Linked DNA regions of Homo sapiens: region 1 is linked to region 2. Evidence: fine-mapped expression QTL. A gene starts in region 2. The other region holds a variant in brackets. All regions are shown on one strand. Distances are between the middles of the regions.

Region 1 (5,333 bases), 150 kb after region 2:
GGACATACTGACTTCTTTTCTCATGTGTCCCTCTCAGTAGATATTCTAAGTTGTAGCTCATGCGGCCCTGGTCAGTGAGTTACCATTAACACAATGGTTTACATTTTTTAAAATTATGAAATATAAACATACAGGAAGTAATAGGAAATAAGATAACAATGTATTTACCACTCAGCTTTATCAATGATCCGAAGCAAATATTTCAAAATAAATAAAAATGCATCATATATATGGTTGGTAACTCCTGTTTATCCCTTCTTGTGCTCATTTCATCCCTCCCTAACAGTTATCAGCATTCTAAATTGGCATCTATTCTTGCCATTATACTAAACTATTTATTATACTATTGCTACAAATGTATATATCTATAAACAACATAGTTTTATACTTATACACTTTATTAAAATGATATGCATAGTCTTGTGCTTTTGAGATATATTCATGTTGATTTATATAGTTCATTTTCATTTATTTTTGCTTCTATATAGTGTTCAATTGTGTGACTTAACAGTGAATTTAGCCATTCTGTGTCAATAGATACAATTTTTTGCTCTTACAACAGACGTGGTGAATATTCTTGCACATCTCTCAGTATGCTTGTATAAGAATTTCTCTGTATGGTTTCCATAAGTACACCAAGATACTGGTCTTCTCAGTCCTTAGGGTAGCAACAGGAAGACCTAGAGTCAGCAGAGCCCCTGAGCTAGTATCCTTTGGCCATGAACAATTTTATTTTTCCCCAGTGGCACAGGAAAAAAAAATCATTATTTCTATGTAGGATTGCTGAACTAAGGAGATACACATTTTCACATTTAATAGATATTACCAAATTGTTCTCCAAAGTAGTTGTACCAGTTTACGCTCTCATCAATGTAAAGTTCTATTTTTACTAAAACAAGGTACTGTAGTGATGGTTGAGAGCATGGGCTTTAGTGTTGGACTCTGTGAATTTGAGCCTGACTCCACCTGCAAGCTGTGTGATCGTGGGCAGGTTTCTTGGACTTTGCCTTAGCTTTTTTTATATGTCAGAGGATTAGTGGACCATATGCTCTCTGTGACAACTACATAGCCACTTAACCTCTCCGACTCAATTTCTCCAAATGAACATTAGGAATAGTAAACCTACCTACTTCCTGAGAATGTGGCAAGGAATAATCGGCTAAATAGGCAATAAGTAAACAATGGGTTGAGTTGCGTTCCAATAAAACGTTATTTACAAAAATAGGTGGCAGACTGAATTTGGCCCATGGGCTGTAGTTTGCCAACCTTACTCTAGAAAAATCATTCAGGGCAAATATTATACAATAAATTACTAAATGGTGTATGTATCATATAATATATAAATCTGTGTATATAAGTATGTATTTAACACATTGTTAATATGTAAACATGTAATATTATAATATGTAATATAAATTTATTCATTTATTTTTCTTGCTAATCCCAGAGAAATTAGCTACCCTCATTCTTTTAAAAGCTATTGTTTCCTCCTGTATACATTACTTATTCAATCAGCAAATTTACCTCCATACAGAAGGTAAATTTACCTCCATATACTTCAGTAATTTTGAGTTTACTGCATAACTTGTTCTATTTATAGATAGCCAAATTTTTTTTAAGTTCTGCTTTTGGTCTTTTCTTCCTTAACCTAACACTCTACTCTCTGAAGCAACATATTATATACCTAGCGTCTGCTGACATGATAATCTTTGTCTTAAGTTCACATCTCCTACCCTCCTTGCCCAGGACAAACAATTCTTATTCTCATAGGAATCTCCTATATGACACTGTCTCAAGCTGATTTGCATTCCGTCAATCAGATGTTGTCTACTTTTTAAGTTAGTCACTTTGCTAGGTACTGAAGACGCAGGTGTGAACCAGTTTCTCTGAAAATAGGGCATCCAAAACAGAGCCTAGATGTGGCCTGGCTCACTGGGGGGGTCCCATGGGATGACTCTCTTTCTCTCAGTCTGTGCACTATGCTTTTAGTGATAGAACTTGACATCATGCTGCCTTTTTGCCTTTCCTTTCATCCCCCAAACCAAGGCTCTTATTATTTCGAAGTAAGTTTGGCAGATATTAGGCCCCATATTTTCTTCAAATGAGAATACTAGGCTCAGAGTGGTAAGAAATTTACCCAAAGGCAGAACTGAAAATCAAATCCAGATTTTACAACTTCCCACTCCAGGATTCTTTCTAATATTTCATGCTTCCTCCATACCCAAAACACATTGTCCTAGCAAAACTTTATATGATTCCAAAACAGTCTCTACCAGTGAAACACTAATGAAGAATTGACCACATGGAAAAGACAATAGGGCTTAAAGTACAACCTCTCTCTGACAGATGTCCAAAGGCATGTAAAATTCATGCCTTTGGAATAGGTACATGTCTTCCTACGTTTGGACAAGCCACTCTCCTTCCTGGTAAAGGTGTTAGAGCTAAAATGATAGCACACAGCAGTTTGGGTCCCAAGGCAAATGCCTCACACCCACGGCCTACTTGCCAGGTTAGTGAAAGGTCTCTTGGCCTAGACCGTGGACCTGGGGTGGGCTTCCTCCTGCACATACCAGGGGCCACAAATAGTAATAAGAATAATCCTGTTAAAATAGACTAATAACAGACATTTATTGAAAGTTTATTGTGTGCCAGGCACTGAATTATTTAGTATATTATTTAATCCTCAGAACATTCTTACAAGGTAAGTACCATTTTAATGTTCATTTGGATATATAGAGTCAGAAAGGTTGAGTAACTTGCCTTCAGTCAGCTAGTAGACAATAGAGAAGGGCTGTAAAGAAGTGCTTTTAACCACTGTGCTATACTTGCCAACTTGTCCAAAACCATGAACATTATCCTTTCTAGTCCCAAATTTATTTTGCTGCTTCAGGGGTTTGAAAATTTAAAAATCCCACAGAAATATGAACTACCATCAGAGAATACTATAAACACCTCTACGCAAATAAACTAGAAAATCTAGAAGAAATGGATAAATTCCTTGACACATACACCCTCCCA[G/A]GACTAAACCAGGAAGAAGTTGAATCTCTGAATAGACCAATAACAGGCTCTGAAATTGAGGCAATAATCAATAGCTTACCAACCAAAAAAAGTCCAGGACCAGATGGATTCACAGCCGAATTCCACCAGAGGTACAAGGAGGAGCTGGTACCATTCCTTCTGAAACTATTCCAATCAATAGAAAAAGAGGGAATCCTCCCTAACTCATTTTATGAGGCCAGCATCATCCTGATACCAAAGCTGGGCAGAGACACAACAAAAAAAGAGAATTTTAGACCAATATCCCTAATGAACATCGATGCAAAAATCCTCAGTAAAATACTGGCAAACCGAATCCAGCAGCACATCAAAAAGCTTATCCACCATGATCAAGTGGGCTTCATCCCTGGGATGCAAGGCTGGTTCAACATACACAAATCAATAAACATAATCCAGCATATAAACAGAACCAACGACAAAAACCACATGATTATCTCAATAGATGCAGAAAAGGCCTTTGACAAAATTCAACAATGCTTCCTGCTAAAAACTCTCAATAAATTAGGTATTGATGGGACATATCTCAAAATAATAAGAGCTATCTATGACAAACCCACAGCCAATATCATACTGAATGGGCAAAAACTGGAAGCATTCCCTTTGAAAACTGGCACAAGACAGGGATGTCCTCTCTCACCACTCCTATTCAACATAGTGTTGGAAGTTCTGGCCAGGGCAATCAGGCAGGAGAAGGAAATAAAGGGTATTTAATTAAGGAAAAGAGGAAGTCAAATTGTCCCTGTTTGCAGATGACATGATTGTATATCTAGAAAACCCCATCGTCTCAGCCCAAAATCTCCTTAAGCTGATAAGCAACTTCAGAAAAGTCTCAGGATACAAAATCAATGTGCAAAAATCACAAGCATTCTTATACACCAATAACAGACAAACAGAGAGCCAAATCATGAGTGAACTCCCATTCACAATTGCTTCAAAGAGAATAAAATACCTAGGAATCCAACTTATAAGGGACGTGAAGGACCTCTTCAAGGAGAACTACAAGCCACTGCTCAATGAAATAAAAGAGGATACAAACAAATAGAAGAACATTCCATGCTCATGGGCAGGAAGAATCAATATCATGAAAATGGCCATACTGCCCAAGGTAATTTATAGATTCAGTGCCATCCCCATCAAGCTACCAATGACTTTCTTCACAGAATTGGAAAAAACTACTTTAAAGTTCATATGGAACCAAAAAAGAGCCAGCATTGCCAAGTCAATCCTAAACCAAAAGAACAAAGCTGGAGGCATCACACTACCTGACTTCAAACTATACTACAAGGCTACAGTAACCAAAACAGCATGGTACTGTACCAAAACAGAGATATAGACCAATGGAACAGAACAGAGCCCTCAGAAATAATGCCACATATCTACAACTATCTGATCTTTGACAAACCTGACAAAAACAAGAAATGGGGAAAGGATTCCCTATTTAATAAATGGTGCTGGGAAAACTGGCTAGCCATATGTAGAAGGCTGAAACTGGATCCCTTCCTTACACCTTATACAAAAATTAATTCGAGATGGATTAAAGACTTAAATGTTAGACCTAAAACCATAAAAACCCTAGAAGAAAACCTAGGCAATACCATTCAGGACATTGGCATGGGCAAGGACTTCACGTCTAAAACACCAAAAGCAATGGCAACAAAAGCCAAAATTGACAAATGGGATCTAATTAAACTAAAGAGCTTCTGCACAGCAAAAGAAACTACCATCAGAGTGAACAAGCAACCTACAGAATGGGAGAAAATTTTTGCAATCTACTCATCTGACAAAGGGCTAATAACCAGAATTTACAATGAACTCAAACAAGTTTACAAGAAAAAAACAAACAACCCCATCAACAAGTGGGCAAAGGATATGAACAGACACTTCTCAAAAGAAGACATTTATGCAGCCAAAAGACACATGAAAAAATGCTCATCATCACTGGCCATCAGAGAAATGCAATTCAAAACCACAATGAGATAACATCTCACACCAGTTAGAATGGCAATCATTAAAAAGTCAGGAAACAACAGGTCCTGGAGAGGATGTGGAGAAATAGGAACACTTTTACACTGTTGGTGGGACTGTAAACTAGTTCAACCATTGTGGAAGTCAGTGTGGCGATTCCTCAGGGATCTAGAACTAGAAATACCATTTGACCCAGCCATCCCATTACTGGGTATATACCCAAAGGATTATAAATCATGCTGCTGTAAAGACACATGCACATGTATGTTTATTGCAGCACTAGTCACAATAACAAAGACTTGGAACCAACC
Region 2 (5,321 bases):
TGTCACACATCCTCTGTTGCACCCTTCTTATTAATTCTCCACTCTGCAGCCGGAATAATCTCTTTTTTTTTTTTTTTTTTTTTTTTTTAAGAGACAATGTCTCACACTCTGCTGCCCAAGCTGGAATGCAGAGGCACGATCATAGCTCACTGCAGCCTCGAGCTCCTGGGCTCAGTCAGGTGCGTGCCACCAAGCCTGGCTAATTTTATTTTATTTTTGTAGAGATGGGGGTCTTGCAATGTTGCCCAGGCTGGTCTCAAACTCCTGGCCTCTAGTGATCCTCCCACCTCAGCCTCCCAATGTGCTGGGATTACAGGTGTGAGCCACTGCATCCAGGATCATCTTTTACAAATGCAATTTTTCATGTCCAGATAGGACCTTTTCAACTCTTCATTGGCTTCTTTTGTCTTTAGGATTAAATCCAAAGTCCTTAACCTGACCCTCAAGGGCCCGCCCACCTCTCCCTCCCAGGTAGCTCTCTCAGTCTAAGCACAGTGGCCTTTTCCCAAAGCCTTCACAGACAGAGCCTCTTCCTACCAAAGGGCCTTCAAACCTGCAGTTTCCACAGCTAAATGCACTGCCCACCCCACCCCCTTCTCTATGTTGCCTGCCCTAACTCCTCCTTATTCTTCAAGGCTGAGATTAAATGTCACTTCCTCCAGGAGATCTTTCTTACCCCCTAGCACAGACACGCTCCTTTGTTATACACTCTCATAACTCTCAGGCTTTTTTCCAGCAATCACAACAGCATCACCACACAGCCTCAAGTCCAAGCCACTTGCTTCACATTTGAAGTTGCCAGCTGTCAGACGGGAGATGAAGTAGAAATGGGATTGTTGTTGTCTGCACCCATTAGGACCCAGTTTTTTACAAGGGGGCATTTCCTCGCCCGATTCCAATGTGAGTTATTTTCAGGGCTGAAATTTGATTTAAATTTGGATTCCAACTTGAAGCTTAACATATCTCCAAAGTACACACTACTTTGCGGTACTGAATGAAGAATGTAAGTAGAAGGTTGCCTGCCACATGCCATGTAATGCTCTGAAGGACGGTAGAAACCACCAGCTCTCTCAGAAAAAAATGGTGGAAGAATTTTCAAAACCAAGACAGGCTGGCTTCTGTATATGCTTTGTGTAGAAATCTTGAAAGACTACACACTCAGGGGAGGAACACATATTGGGTGGAACTTCTGCCAAACTTTCAAGAGCAGCTACTTTCTAATGATCTGTAATTCAAAAAACAACCAGAACAAAAACCAGCTGGAAATGCAGTCAAAACACTGCTTTTCCATATTCCTTGCAATTATACTTTCATTTTTAGGTGGTGAGGAACACCAGGATGAGTCATTATAAAAAGCATGACTGCAGATGGCCAAGAGTGATACCGAAGCACCCTTCACCCTGAAGGTTAAGGTTAAAGCTCAAAGTCTGATCGCAAAGCATAAGGAAAAAAAAAAAGAACATGGATAAATGTATGCTGGTGTCCTTCAGCACCAGAAAAGCTGCTACTAAATCACTGGTGTGGCTTGGAATTGGTAGAAGCTTTGATTTGAGGAAAAGAGTATCATTAGCTGTGTAATTTTGAGTTGTTGTTTTAGAGACAAGGTCTCATTTTGTGGCCCAGACTGGAGTGCAGTGATGCGATCATAGCCCGCTGCAGCCTTGAACTCCTGGGCTCAGGCGATCCTCCCACCTCAGTCTCCTAGCCACTCCAGGTCTCGCTGTGTTTGCCCAGGCTGGTCTCAAATTCCTGGCCTCAAGCGATCCTCTCGCCTGGTCCTCCCGAAGTGTTGAGGTTACACGCATGAGCCACCAATCCTGGCATTATGGCATTAGCTGTGTAATTTTTAAAATAACTGTCTTCGGACCAACACCTTTCTTTTGTTCACTGGAGTATCCCTGGGGTGTGTCTCATTCCCTGAATCATACACAGTAGATGCTCAATAGTTTTGTAAATAAAATAAATGAGCTCTCGGATTTACATGCAGACTTTGGATCAGTTTGATCTAGGTTTAAAAGCAAGTGTGGGGAAACTTGAAAAGCCTGGCACCCCAGCCAACTCTTCAGCGCCCCATGCGCTTGGCGCCTACACCTGCCTGGCACGGGGAGGGTGCTATGGGGCTGCCCTAAACCTCACCCCCTCCTGCGGTGGTTCCTGCCCGTCTCGGCTCCTGCACCGCCCACACTATGCGCTGCTGGGCCGAAAGACACGTGGTTCGGTTTTAACTCCAGTCTGCAAGAAACATGACCTCAGCCAAAAAGAGGCCGCTGGTCTGAGAAGAGAAATCATGAGTCATGGATTCGGGGGTTCGGACCTTGGAGCAGGCGGTGAAGTGGGCGTGCGTGGGCTGGTGGGGAAGAGGGATGCCGAAGGAGGCCACAGCCCTTCTCTCCTGGGCAGGCTCCCCAGAAAACTGCCCCCTTGCCGTCATCCAGCGCCCCCGTTCCCGACAGCTGTCTGCCAGGGCGCGGCCGGGGTCCGGGCGGGGCGGTGCTGTCGCTCCGGGTCGCCGCCCCGCGGGCCACATCACCAAGGCCCGGGCTTCCCCGGCGGCGGCGCGGCTGCGCTTGCGCGGGGCTGCCGCGCGGGGGCGGGGCGGCGGGGAGTCAGGGGGCCGCGGGCGCCGACGGCCGGGCTGTCAGCTTGGGGCCGCAGCCGCGCGAGGAGGCGCGGGAGCAGGAAGGAGCTGTGGGCTGGGAGCCGCTGTCCTCCCCGCCACCACCGGTGCCGGGCACCAGGTGAATGCCCCTTCCATCCCCCGCCCCTGGTGTCTCGGTCTGGTCTGAGGAGACGGGGACCCTTCTCACACCGGCCGCTGCCGCCGCCGCGCTCCGGAACAGGTGACCATGGAGGGGAAGTCTCGGCTTCGGCCGCGGCGCCGCGTTCGGGCGCATCAGGTGCGGGAGGGAGGTGGGGCCGAGAGGCCTGGGCTCGGGACCCGGCGGCGGGGGCGCGGGGAGCAGAGGGAGCGGCCCCGCCCGAGCAGCCGTGCCCCCTGCGGACGCCTCTCCGGGCCGCCGGGCAGCGCCCGAGCCCAGGCCCCCGCGCCTGCCCCACCTCGGGCTGAGGGAAGCTGTTCCGCGGCCACCGCGGACAAGCGGTCCCGGGCGCCCAAGGCAGGGACAGGCGGCGGGTGGTGTATGAGTGATGGCTGAAGGTGAGCTGGGATGGAGATGCTGCGAGGCTGGCTCGGGCACACCCCAGATGCCTGTTCAGGGCTCCGCGAGTGCCCCGTCACCCTTTTCTTTCATTCTTCTCTTTATATACACGGAGCATATCTCAAATTTAAAAGCCCAAATGCTCATTTACAGAGAGAGATGACACATATCTATGTGTTACCGATATACATTGATGTGTATATTACGTATATATGTCATCTTTTTTTTGTAGTGACAATTTTTAAATTGAGATATACATCACATGCCATAAAACTCATTCTTCTAAAGTGTGGCTTTTAATATATTCACAGAGTTTTCCAAATATGACCACTATCCAGATCATCATCCCCAAAAGAAACCCTGTCTCTCTTAGTAATCACTCCTCATTTCCCCTTGACCCCACCCCACTAGCCACCACTAATCTACTTTCTGTTTATATGGGTTTGCCTGTTGTGGAAATCTCATATAAATGGAAGCGTACAATATGTGGCTTTTTGTGTCTGGCGTCGAAAGACATACTGTAATGTTTTCAAGTTTCACTCATGTAGTATGTATCAGTACTTTACTTTTTATAGCATATTAATATTGTTGTATCAGTGTACCACATTTGTTTATTCATCAGTTGATGTACATTTGGGTTGTTTCCAGTTTTTGGCCATTGTGTGTAATGCTGCTATGCACATTTGTTTACACGTTTTTGTGGACATGTGTTTTCAGTGCTCTTGGGTATATACCTAGGAGGGCAATTGCTCCGTGTTTCACTTTTTGAGGAACTGCCAAGCAAAGCAGCTGTACCATTTTACTTTCCCACTAAGCAGTGTATGAGGGTTCCGATTTCTTCACATCTTCCCCAAGGCTTGTTACTTTTTTACTGGTTATTTTTTATGATAGCCATCGTAGTGAGTGTGGAATGGTATCTCTTTGTGGTTTTGATTTGCATTTCTCTAATGATTGGGGATGCTGAGCATCTTTTCATGTGCTTATTGGCCATTCATATATTTTCTTTGGAGAAAATGTTCATATCTTTTACCCATATTTTAATTGGGTTGCTTGGCTTTTTATTTTTATTTATTTATTTATTTATTTATTTGGAGACTGACTCTCAGTCTGTCACCCAGGCTGGAGTGCAGTGGCACAATCTTGGCTCACTGCAACCTCCACCTCCGGGGTTCAAGCGATTCTCCTGCCTCAGCCTCCCAAGTAGCTGGGACTACAGGCACACACCACTATGCCCGGCTAATTTTTGTATTTTTAGTAGAGACGTGGTTTCACCATGTTGGCCAGGTTGGTCTCCAACTCCTGAATTCAAGTGATCTGCCCACCTCGGCTTCCCAAAGTGCTGGGATTACAGGCATAAGCCACCACGGCCAGTCTGGGTTGCTTAGCTTTTTATTGAGTTTTATTGTTCATTTATGGAAAAAAATTTCTGTTAATAGGTTTGGATACTGGCACTGACTTGAAAAAATCCAACCAATCTGATACCGAAAAACTTAATGCTTATTCTTGGGTAAAGGTTGAATAAGTGCCACTTCATTCTTTAAGAATACCCTACCTGTTCATTCTGGACATCTTACTGACCCCTTTACATTTACTGCCCTGGTATTTTGAGCAAAGCTACAGAAGGCATATTCCTGACTGGAGTCAAGAGAGACCACCCTTAATTGGTATTTTCATATATTCTATGCTCAATTTGAAAATCCCAGTTATCACTTTAATTACAAAAAATTTATATTAGTGGCCAGCTGAACAAACTAACAATAAATGGCAAGCACAAATCACTCAAAAATTTATGTTTAACTTCTCAGTAAAGTGGAGAATCTTGTTTTCTTAAGTTTGTGCAGTGTAGTTTTTATTACAATTATGTTCATGTGTGGGTGGTAAATAAATATTTTTGATGGCACTAAAGTTAAGAGCCACTTACAGCTAAATGAATGCTGCTGTGCTTATTTCATGGTTAATTTCCGAGCGCACACAAATTCAGCATCAGGTCTTTCATGGCCAAAAAAAAAAAAACCACTAAAAAGACCTGATGTTACCTCCCAGGAATTCAAACTCAATTTTCCACTGATCTAATATGATTGTTGTTAAAGAAAAAGATTATTCGATGATACTTGTTAAAATGTGGTAAAAAAAAGTCTATTCAGGACCATTGTGATAGGTAAA

What was found. PIP is the estimated chance that this variant, and not a neighbour inherited with it, causes the effect.
Region 1: its variant is the best candidate, but not a certain one, in a credible set for the expression of SLC41A2 in adrenal gland (GTEx, PIP 0.81).

Annotation. Positions count from the first base shown.
Region 1 is chr12:104,806,478-104,811,810 of GRCh38, reverse strand. The region is part of intron 10 of SLC41A2 (solute carrier family 41 member 2); the gene reads left to right. Among named protein-coding and RNA genes, the nearest start is that of SLC41A2, 150 kb to the left of the region's middle. The variant G/A (reference allele first, on the strand shown) is at 3,019.
Region 2 is chr12:104,955,607-104,960,927 of GRCh38, reverse strand. It overlaps SLC41A2 (solute carrier family 41 member 2), which reads left to right and starts at 2,638. Exons shown (of 11, transcript NM_001352171.3): 1 at 2,638-2,840. RefSeq lists silencers at 2,460-2,729, 2,920-3,249.